2 linked regions of the Homo sapiens genome follow. The protein of the gene in region 1 interacts with the protein of each later gene in a biochemical or structural test. Each region holds a gene or a part of one and is shown on either strand. Other genes may lie near its edges.

The links. The genes of interacting proteins can lie anywhere in the genome.
Region 2: the proteins of IRAK2 (region 1) and TOLLIP form a complex in vitro, tested with the Homo sapiens proteins (one study listed by BioGRID).

Annotation. Positions count from the first base shown.
Region 1 is NC_000003.12:10,162,722-10,168,244, reverse strand, and holds the start of IRAK2 (interleukin-1 receptor-associated kinase-like 2), read right to left. Parts: upstream 3,327-5,523; 5' UTR 3,291-3,326; coding exon 3,197-3,290; intron 1-3,196. UniProt on the Homo sapiens protein: Binds to the IL-1 type I receptor following IL-1 engagement, triggering intracellular signaling cascades leading to transcriptional up-regulation and mRNA stabilization.
Region 2 is NC_000011.10:1,292,220-1,297,081, forward strand, and holds part of TOLLIP (toll-interacting protein), read right to left. Parts: exon of another isoform or gene 4,309-4,862; coding exon of another isoform or gene 4,237-4,308; intron 3,576-4,236; coding exon 3,426-3,575; intron 1-3,425. UniProt on the Homo sapiens protein: Component of the signaling pathway of IL-1 and Toll-like receptors. Inhibits cell activation by microbial products. Recruits IRAK1 to the IL-1 receptor complex. Inhibits IRAK1 phosphorylation and kinase activity.

The DNA of each region.
Region 1 (5,523 bases):
AGCGAGACTCTGTCTCAAAAAAAAAAAAATTAAAAAAAGAAAAAAATAACACATGTTGACAAGGATGTGGAGAAATGGTCATCCTCATACACTGGTGGTTCAGCCACTTTAGAAAACATCTGGTAGCTCCTCAAATAGTTAAACATAAAGCCAGATGCAGTGGCTCACACCTGTAATCCCAGCAATTTGGGAAGGTGAGATGGGCAGATCGCTTGAGCTCCAGAGTTCAAGATCAGCCTGAGTAACATGGTGAAACCTGTCTCTACAAAAAATACAAAAGTTAGCTGGGTGCAGCAGTGCACACCTGTAGTCCAGCTACTCAGGAGACAGGAAGATCGCTTGAGCCCAGGAAGTTGGGGCTGCGGTGAGCTACATTTGCACCACTGCACAAAATCTTGTATGTGAGTGTTCACAGCAGCACTATTCACAATGGCCCAAAAGTGAAAAGAACCCAATGCCCAACAACTGATAAATGAATGAAATGTAGTATATCCATACCATGGAACATTATCCTACAATAAAAAGAAACTGGCTGGGCGCGGTGGCTCACGCCTGTAATCCCAGCACTTTGGGAAGCCGAGGTAGGTGGATTACACGGTCAGGAGATCAAGACCATCCTGGCTAACACAGTGAAACCCCATCTCTACTAAAAATACAAAAAAATTAGCCGGGCATGGTGGCAGGCACCTGTAGTCCAAGCTGCTAGGGAGGCTGAAGCAGGAGAATGGCATGAACCCAGGAGGTGGAGCTTGCAGTGAGCCGAGATTGCGCCACTGCACTCCAGCCTGGGTGACAAAGCGAGACTCCGTCTCAAAAAAAAAAAAAAGAAACTAAGTATTGACGCATGCTACAACATGGATGAACCTCATGTTAGTTGAAACAAGTCAGTCACAGAGCACTATATATTATATGATTCCATTTATATGAAATGTCCAAAATAGGCAATGTCTAAAACTCAGGAAAATGGAAGGAGGGGATTGGAAGTTAACGGGTACAGAGTTTCTTCTTCGGGTGATTAAAATGTTCTAAGATTGATTGTGAAGATGGATACACAGCCCTGTGAATATACTAAATACCACTAAATTGTACTCCTGAAACAGGTGGATTGTATGGTATGTGAATATCTCAGTAAAGCTTTATTTTTTTTTTAAGTCATAGGTATGCCTTCTAATTGAATTTCCTAGAAACAGAAGTTGTTCTGGCATTTGTAACTGAGGGCTGGGCCAATGTGGAAAAAATGAGAGGGAGTCTCACACAAAGTTTGTTCACTGCCCAGGAAACATTCAAAGTAGTGAAGCCAGGTCCAGGAGCAGTGGCTCACGCCTGTAATCCCAGCACTTTGGGAGGCCAAAGCGGCCAAATCACATGAGGTCAGGAGTTCGAGACCAGCCTGGCCAACATGGCGAAACCCCATCTCTACTAAAAACATAAAAATTAGTGGGCGTGGTGGCACATGCCTGTAATCCCAGCTACTCGGGAGGCTGAGGCAAGAGAATCACTTGAATCCAAGAGGCGGAAGCTGCAGTGAGCCGAGATCTCGCCACTGCATTCCAGCCTGGGCCACAGAATGAGACTGTCTCAAAAAAATAAAAATGAAAAGAGAATATTACAACTTATGACTTATAAGAATATTTAACACTTAGGTGTCAGTGCTTTTATACAGTATTTTCATTCCTCACAACTTTATGAAGAAGCTATAATTATCATCTCCAGTTTACATACAGATTCAGAAGCTGAGGCTCAGAGAGGTTAACAAACTGGCCCAAAGTCATACAGCAAGAGCCTGGAATGCAGATCTCCACCTGGAAAGCAGAGACAACAGGCAAGCGGCCTCCCCGCAGAGTCCATGGCCCTCTCCGCCAGTCATCCGTCAGGCACCAACAAACAAAACATATGGAGGCTGTCTGAGTGCCTTCCCACGGAATTATCTAGAACTGTGCACCTTGCAATAGAGTGAAAGTAAGTGCTTGTGCTTAGGCCCCATTATACACACTGAATCTATTAGGACACATCTGATCTCAAAACAGGTTGATAGTCATAAATACTGTGATCAAAACAATGTACACTAAAAGTAAATATCTGATTTTAAAACTATAATGGTAAAGTACATTTAATCACAAATATGATAAATAGGCTGGGCACAGTGGCTCACGCCTGTAATCCCAGCACTTTGGGAGGCCGAAGCAGGTGGATCGCCTGAGATCAAGAGTTCCGGAGGCCGGGCGCGGTGGCTCATGCCTGTAATCCCAGCACTTTGGGAGGCCCAGGGTGGGCGGATCACAAGGTCAGGAGATCCAGACCATCCTGGCTAACACGGTGAAACCCCGTCTCTACTAAGAATACAAAGTTAGCCGGGCGTGGTGGCGGGCGCCTGTAGTCCCAGCTACTCAGAAGGCTGAGGCAGGAGAATGGCGTGAACCCGGGAGGCGGAGCTTGCAACGAGCCTAGATCGCGCCACTGCACTCCAGCCTGGGCGACAGAGTGAGACTCCGTCTTAAAAAAAAAAAAAAAAAAAAAAAAAAATAGTTCAAGACCAGTCTGGCCAACATGGTGAAACCCGGTCTCTACTGAAAATACAAAAAATTAGCCAGGGTGGTAGCGGGCGCCTGTAATCCCAGCTACTCGGGAGGCCGAGGCAGGAAAATCGCTTGAATCCCAGAGGTGGAGGTTGCAGTGAGCCGAGACCGTGCCATTGCACTCCAGCCTGGGCAACAACAGCGAAACTCCGTTTCAATATATATATATATGTTAAATCATAGATCCTTCTAATATACACTAAAACTAAACACACCACACACACACACACACACACCCCCCCAAGAAGTGACAGCACCGTGGGTCCCTACAGGGTCGAGGCTCGCACTTTGCAGGCTGTTGTGGGCTGGATGAGAGGCCACCTGGGGACGTCACCGAGCCAGCAGCGCTGACAGGAGGGCCCCCGTACCCACCGTTCTCTGGACTCAGAGCGCAGTGGCGGCGGCCCCTGCTCGTCGACAGACGTCCTCAGAGACCACGCGGCACCTTCAGGTGACAGGCCGAGGTCCGCGGCGGACCCGGTCCAGGAGGCTCAGCTCGCACGCCCTCGGATCGGGACCCGCTGAACCCGGGTGCCCGAGGGAGCTTGGCGGCCGCTCCAGGCGGGATCGCTGGGGGCTCCGGTCGCCCTGGTCCCCTCCCCTCCCCGGGCCGCACTCACCGAACTCCATCCAGTCCCACTCGCTGAGCGCGTCCATGTTGCGGCACAGGTCGTCCAGCACCCAGGAGGGCAGCTGGTAGATGTAGCAGGCCATGGCACGCTACGGGGCCGGCTCCGGCGCGGGACGACTGGGTCGGACACTGCGGGCTGCGGCTTCTCTAGCCAGGGGCGGACCGGCGGGGAAGTGGGCGGGGCGGGAGGGCACCAGCGTCCCCAGCGGCCACGGGCGGCACGACGGCCCCGCCGGCTCCACCCCAGCGCCGGCCAGAGAATCGGAACTGCGAGGGGAAACTGAGGCCCTGGTGGGAGAAGGCCACACGGGAATTCTGCCGCAGCGGCAGGAGGCCTTCTGACCCCACTTCCATCGGCACTACACCATGCATCATGCGCTCATCAAATACTCCATTAATTACCTACTGTATGCCAGGCAACTCCCTAGGTGTTGGTAATACCTGAATAAGAAACCCTACAGCCGGGCGCGGTGGATCACTCCTGTAATCCCAGTACTTTGGGAGGCCGAGGCGGACGGATCACGAGGTCAGGAGTTCGAGACTAGCCTGGCCAATATGGTGAAACCCCGTCACTACTAAAAATACAAAAATTAGCCGGGCACGGTGGCGCACGCCTGTAGTCCCAGCTACCTGGGAGGCTGAGGCAGAAGAATCGCTTGAACCCTGGAGGCGGAGGTTGCAGTAAGCCCAGATTGTGCCCTTGTACTCCAGCCTGGGTGAAGAGTGAGGCTCTGTCTCAAAAAAAAAAAAAAAAAAAAAAAAAAGCCTACAAAAGCCCTTGCTTTCATAAGACTTACAATCTAGGTGTGGAGAGAAAGACTAACAATAAATAATAAATATAGTATGTTACAGAGTGTCTTAAAGGTAATAAGCACTATTGCAAAAAAAAAAAAAAAGGAAAAAAAGTTGGTTAAAGGGAATCAGGAATTCAGATTGAGCATGGGGAATATTCTATTAAATAGGGTAGTCAGGTAGACTTTACTATAGTAGCTAATATGTATCGTGCAGCTACTATGTGCCAGGCACTGTTGTAGGTGCTGGGAATACCTCTGAAGAGAAGGACAAAATCCTTGTCCTGGAGGGAGACAGACAACAAGCAATAAAAATAGGCAGATAAGCTATGTTGGAGAATGAAAGTAGAAGCCTGGGCAACATAGGAAGATCTTATCTCTACAAAAAACTTTTTTTTTTTGAGACGGAGTCTTGCTCTGTAGCCCAGGCTGGAGTGCAGTGGCGCAATCTTGGCTCACTGCAGCCTCTGCCTCCCAGGTCCCGGTTCAAGCAATTCTCCTGCCTCAGTCTCCCGAGTAGCTGGGATTACAGGCACGCGCCACCACGCCCAGCTAATTTTTGTATTTTTAGTAGAGACAGGGTTTCACTGTGTTGGCCAGGATGGTCTTGAACTCCTGACCTCGTGATCCGCCTGCCTCGGCCTCCCAAAGTGCTAGGATTACAGGCATGAGCCACCACGCCTGGCCTCTACAAAAAATTTTAAAATGAGCCAAGCATGGTAGTGTACACCTATAGTCCCAGCTACTCAGGAGGCTAAGGTGGTAGGATCTCTTGAACCCAGGAGTTTGAGGCTGCAGTGAGCTATGACTGCACTGCAGCCTGAGTGACAGAATGAGACCCTGTCTCTGAAAAAAAAAAAAAAAAAAAGAAAGAAAAGAAAGAATAAAAGTAGAGGGTGGTAAAAGGGAGTGCAAGTGGCCAATTGCATTATCTTAGATGATACTATTACTGGGAAAAAAGCAGAGTATGGTGCAGGGGACTGCAGGACAAACTGGATTATTAAATAGGGTATAAGGGGCTGGGTGCGGCGGCTCCCACCTATAACCCCAGCACTTTGGGAGGCAGAGGCAGGCAGATCGCTTGAGCCCAGGAATTCGAGACCAGCCTGGGAAACAGAGCAAGACCCTGTCTCTACAAAAATTAGCCAGGCATGGTGGCATGTGCCTGTAGTCCCAGGTACTTGGGAGGCTAAGGTAGGGGGATCACTTGAGCCCAGGAGGTGGAGATTGCAGTGAGCCAAGATTGCACCACTGCACTCCAGCCTGGGTGAGAGTGAGACCCTGTCTCTAAATAAACAAAGAGGGTACAAGGAACAGAATTTATAGTGTGTGTATACATATATATATATATATATATATATATATATATATATAAAATACACACACACATATATAAAATAGCTAGTATTTATTGAGCACTTACTATGTGTAGCCTTCACCTGGGTTACTTTACTTACTCCTTACAATGACCCTCTGAGGTAGGTATGGTTATAGCCCCATTCTACAAATAAGGAAACTAAGGCAC
Region 2 (4,862 bases), on another chromosome or scaffold:
CCCCTGTAAACTCCTTAGCAACTGCCCTATTTTCTGGAGAGTATGTAGCAGGAAAGTCTGAGACCAGCATGATTTTCCAAAGCTTTCAGGTAACTGTGCTGTCTCTGCCTAGCTGCTATGACTTATTTTTATTAATAACTTTAAAGGCTTTGAGCAAAGCCAGCTTTCTGGGTGGCACATGGGACTCCCCTGCCAGCATGCCCGTGCCTGTCACCGATGCCTGCTCACATTGGATCCTGCCTGCTTCTGCCACACTCAGCGTCATCCTCTCATTCCCATCTCCTCCCACTGCCCTCTGCACTGTGGCTAGAAAACTCTAGGATGAGCGTCCTGTGACATCAACTGCTCTGCTGAAGTGACCTCCTCGATGTTTATGGAAGCATCTGCCCATTCACTATGACTGCACACAACCACATGCTGTTCTGGTGCAGGAGACACTGTGGACACCGTGGGGACACACGGGCACCGCTGCCTCCCCCACAACGGGCAAGAGACGCACGTCAGACAGCAGACACCGTGGGGACACACGGGCACCGCTGCTTTCCCCACAATGGGCAAGAGATGCGCGGCAGACACACAGCGCAGCAGACGGCGTTACCACTGCAGGGAGTGACCAGCTAGGAGGACCGGGTATGCGGGCTGCAGGATCTGGAGGAAGAGCTGCAGGAAGCGGGAGGAGAACGGCCAGGGAAGAGGAAGGTCAGGAGTGACTAGGGTGAGGAAAACATGGGCCCAGCTGGAGCAGGCTCGGCAGGACAGTGCCCACGAGAAAGGCCCACGCGGGAACGGACCTACTCTGGCCACGCTGCAGGGGCTGAGCGGGGGCAGTGGGTGGGTGCGGGGGGCTCCAGGCCTGGACGGGCTGAAGGTGGCGCCTGTGCTGAGGGTCAGGCCTGAAGGGCAAGAGGTGGACATGAACCTGGAGCACCAGCAGCACGAGGGCTTTGGGCCTCAGCTTCCAGAGTGTGGGGCAGCCACCTGCGGACACGGGGGAGAAGCCGGGAGGGTGGCCCGAGAGCTCCACCTTGGGCACACGGAGTCCGGAGTGCCCACGGAACACCTGGGGAGGCCATGTGGCCATGGTCCGTACCTAGGGATCTGGGGTGGAGCTGAGTGGTCGGCTCAGGCTGGGGCCAGCACATGGGTGTTTAGACCCACAGGGATGCAGAAGTCACCGGGATGTGTGGGCAGAGAGGGGAGGAGGGCTGAGGACCAGACCCCTTGGCATCCCACTGGGGCCCCAGGAGACAACAAGGGGAAGCAGCGAGGGGACGCAAGCAGGGAACCACCTGTGTGGCCGCCCAGAAGCCAAGAGAAGCAGGAAACAGGGGCTGAGCTACCTGGCCCAGTGAGGAGGCAGGAATGTTTCCCACCACTGGAGCTGCGCCACAGAAGGCTGGGTGAGCTCACGTGGAGGAAACAGGCTGCCTGTGGTGGGCTCCAGGGTGCGGGAGAGGACCAAGGGGGGCCAGAGGCGTGGGCAACGCCAGGGCCACCTCCAAGGCCCAGCCAGCTCTGGAGCTTGAACTGTGTGAGGTGGAGTGCCCTGCGGTCACCAGGCCCTGCCAGGAGGTGGCGGCTGAGGACGGGTGATGGCACTGGCTGGCCTGGTGGCAGCTGGCACAGGAATGCATGGGCTTACGGGAGTTCACTGGGTGGGCAGAGGGATCGGCCACACCAGCACAGTAACAGCTGCACAAGCAAGGGTCTGAGACACGCCGCGAGGAAGGGGTGACGGTGTAGCTGTGCTCACCACACCATGAAGCCCCTGAAAGCAAGTCTTATTTGTGAGGTCCACGGCGATTCTTCTGCCTGCTGTATTTGTGCATTTCTATGAAAGCCGCGTGGCTCACAGTGTGTCTCCTTTCCCTGCATTTCTACGAAAGCCCGCGTGGCTCACAGTGTGTCTCCTTTCCCTGCATTTCTACAAAAGCCCGCATGGCTCAGTGTGTCTCCTTTCCCTGCATTTCTATGAAAGCCGTGTGGCTCACAGTGTGTCTCCTTTCCCTGCATTTCTACGAAAGCCCGCGTGGCTCACAGTGTGTCTCCTTTCCCTGCATTTCTACGAAAGCCCGCGTGGCTCACAGTGTGTCTCCTTTCCCTGCATTTCTACGAAAGCCCGCGTGGCTCACGGTGTGTCTCCTTTCCCTGCATTTCTACGAAAGCCCGCATGGCTCAGTGTGTCTCCTTTCCCTGCATTTCTACGAAAGCCGCGTGGCTCACAGTGTGTCTCCTTTCCCTGCATTTCTACGAAAGCCCGCGTGGCTCACAGTGTGTCTCCTTTCCCTGCATTTCTACGAAAGCCCGCGTGGCTCACGGTGTGTCTCCTTTCCCTGCATTTCTACGAAAGCCCGCGTGGCTCACGGTGTGTCTCCTTTCCCTGCATTTCTACGAAAGCCCGCGTGGCTCACGGTGTGTCTCCTTTCCCTGCATTTCTACGAAAGCCCGCGTGGCTCACGGTGTGTCTCCTTTCCCTGCATTTCTACGAAAGCCCGCGTGGCTCACGGTGTGTCTCCTTTCCCTGCATTTCTACGAAAGCCCGCGTGGCTCACGGTGTGTCTCCTTTTCCTGCATTTCTACGAAAGCCCGCGTGGCTCACGGTGTGTCTCCTTTTCCTGCATTTCTACGAAAGCCCGCGTGGCTCACGGTGTGTCTCCTTTCCCTGCATTTCTACGAAAGCCCGGGTGGCTCACGGTGTGTCTCCTTTCCCTGCATTTCTACGAAAGCCCGCGTGGCTCACGGTGTGTCTCCTTTCCCTGCATTTCTACGAAAGCCCGCGTGGCTCACGGTGTGTCTCCTTTCCCTGCATTTCTACGAAAGCCTGCGTGGCTCACAGTGTGTCTCCTTTCCCTGCATTTCTACGAAAGCCTGCGTGGCTCACAGTGTGTTTCCTTTTCCTGCAGTCTTACAGACGGTTTTCGTGTGATCAAAATCGGCGTTCAATCTGCCGATTTTGGCTTTCACTTGAAAGACCACTAAGCAACCACGGGCCGGCCCCGAGGCTGACCGAGGGCTGCTCTGTGGGGAGGGAGGGTGCAGGCACCGGCACTGAGGCCAACAGGAAGCCACTCACGCAGCACACACCAGGTGGCGGGGGTGCCGGCCGCGCCTCCTCCAGCTGCCGGCGGGGGTCCGGGAGGTGTCCTTGGGCGTACTCAAGCCTGGTGGAAGAGCCAGGCCCTACACAGAGCAGACGCCCACCTACACCCACTACTCATCACTTGAGTTATGTTTGGTAGAACCCGGGGTCAATGCCAATATCTTTCACACAGATCGTTTTCAACATCACACAGGTTTCAGGAAAAGCGGGAATCAGAAGTTCTGTTTGCCCGCTTAGGAAATGCAGTATAAACGCCGAAATCCGAAATCCCACCCCCACCGAGCGCACCAGCCCCAGGCAGGCAGGAGGGTGCCCCAAGGCCCACCTGTACCACCGTGATGTTCAGTCGGCCCACGGTGCCCACTGCGCCTCCGTACTGCAGCTGCTGGGCCGCCTGGGCGTCCAGCTGGACCTGCCGCTGCTGCTGTGTGGGCGTGATGCGGAGGAAGTCCTGCGGGAGCTCACCGATGTACACCTGCGGGGCCGGGGACCAGAGAGGCCAGTGAGTCAGGGTGGGGGCACAAAGCAGCCCGACAGCAGCTGCCCCCGGCATTCCCGCGGCCCCGCCCCCACCCATGTCCTTATCAAGTCCTGGACTGTGCTCAGCCTCAGTTTCCTCATCTCTAAACGGAGGGGTCAAGGGTGTCCAGCCTGGGGCCTGGCCCCCAGCGGTACAGGTGCAGCCCTCACTCAGGAGATCCCCAAATGCAGGTTTCTGCCGCTAAAAATGGGTTCCTGTCCTCAAAGCCTGCTCAGGTGGGTTTTCAGGTCATTTTAAAGGGTCTCCCTTGCACCATGTGTGCCCACGGCTTCTTTCTCCTTGTCCACAGCTAAAGGCAGGGCCACTGAACTGCAGGTCACTTGGTCAAACGAATGAGACAAAAGCTGAGCCTCAGGTCTAAAGTGATTTGGAAAACCCTCTGCTGATATACTTCAAATGTTTCCACATGAAACAGCTGAAATTCAAAAGTATCCCAGAAGAACGCAGGAAGTAAATCGATTCCAAACAACCACGAAAGACCTCCCCACTCTGCATCCTATGTCTCCTCGACCCTCTGTCCACCACTGCCACTTCTGAGGGGAAGAGAGAGGATGGGCCCAGGCAGGACAATGCCATCCCGAAACCACCCGCACACCTGCAGCGGCCGAAGGGGCCTGGGGTAAACCATGCTCCACAGGTGAAAGGTCGCTGATGAGGCCCTGAGCATGGGTCTGGCTGCTGGTGGAGTGGGGTGGAGGCCTGGTTGCTGGAGGAGTGGGGTGGAGGCCTGGTTGCTGGTGGAGTGGGGTGGAGGCCTGGTTGCTGGTGGAGGCCTGGTTGCTGGAGGAGTGGGATGGAGGCCTGGTTGCTGGTGGAGTGGGGTGGAGGCCTGGTTGCTGGTGGAGTGGGGTGGAGGCCTGGTTGCTGGAGGAGTGGGGTGGAGGCCTGGTTGCTGGTGGAGTGGGGTGGAGGCCTGGTTGCTGGTGGAGTGGGGTGGAGGCCTGGTTGATGGAGGAGTGGGGTGGAGGCCTGGTTGCTGGTGGAGTGGGGTGGAGGCCTGGTTGCTGGTGGAGTGGGGTGGAGGCCTGGTTGCTGGTGGAGTGGGGTGGAGGCCTGGTTGCTGGTGGAGTGGGGTGGAGGCCTGGTTGCTGGTGGAGTGGGGTGGAGGCCTGGTTGCTGGTGGAGTGGGGTGGAGGCCTGGTTGCTGGTGGAGTGGGGTGGAGGCCTGGTTGCTGGTGGAGTGGGGTGGAGACCCAGCCGTCTGCAGGGGCCCCGGTCAGC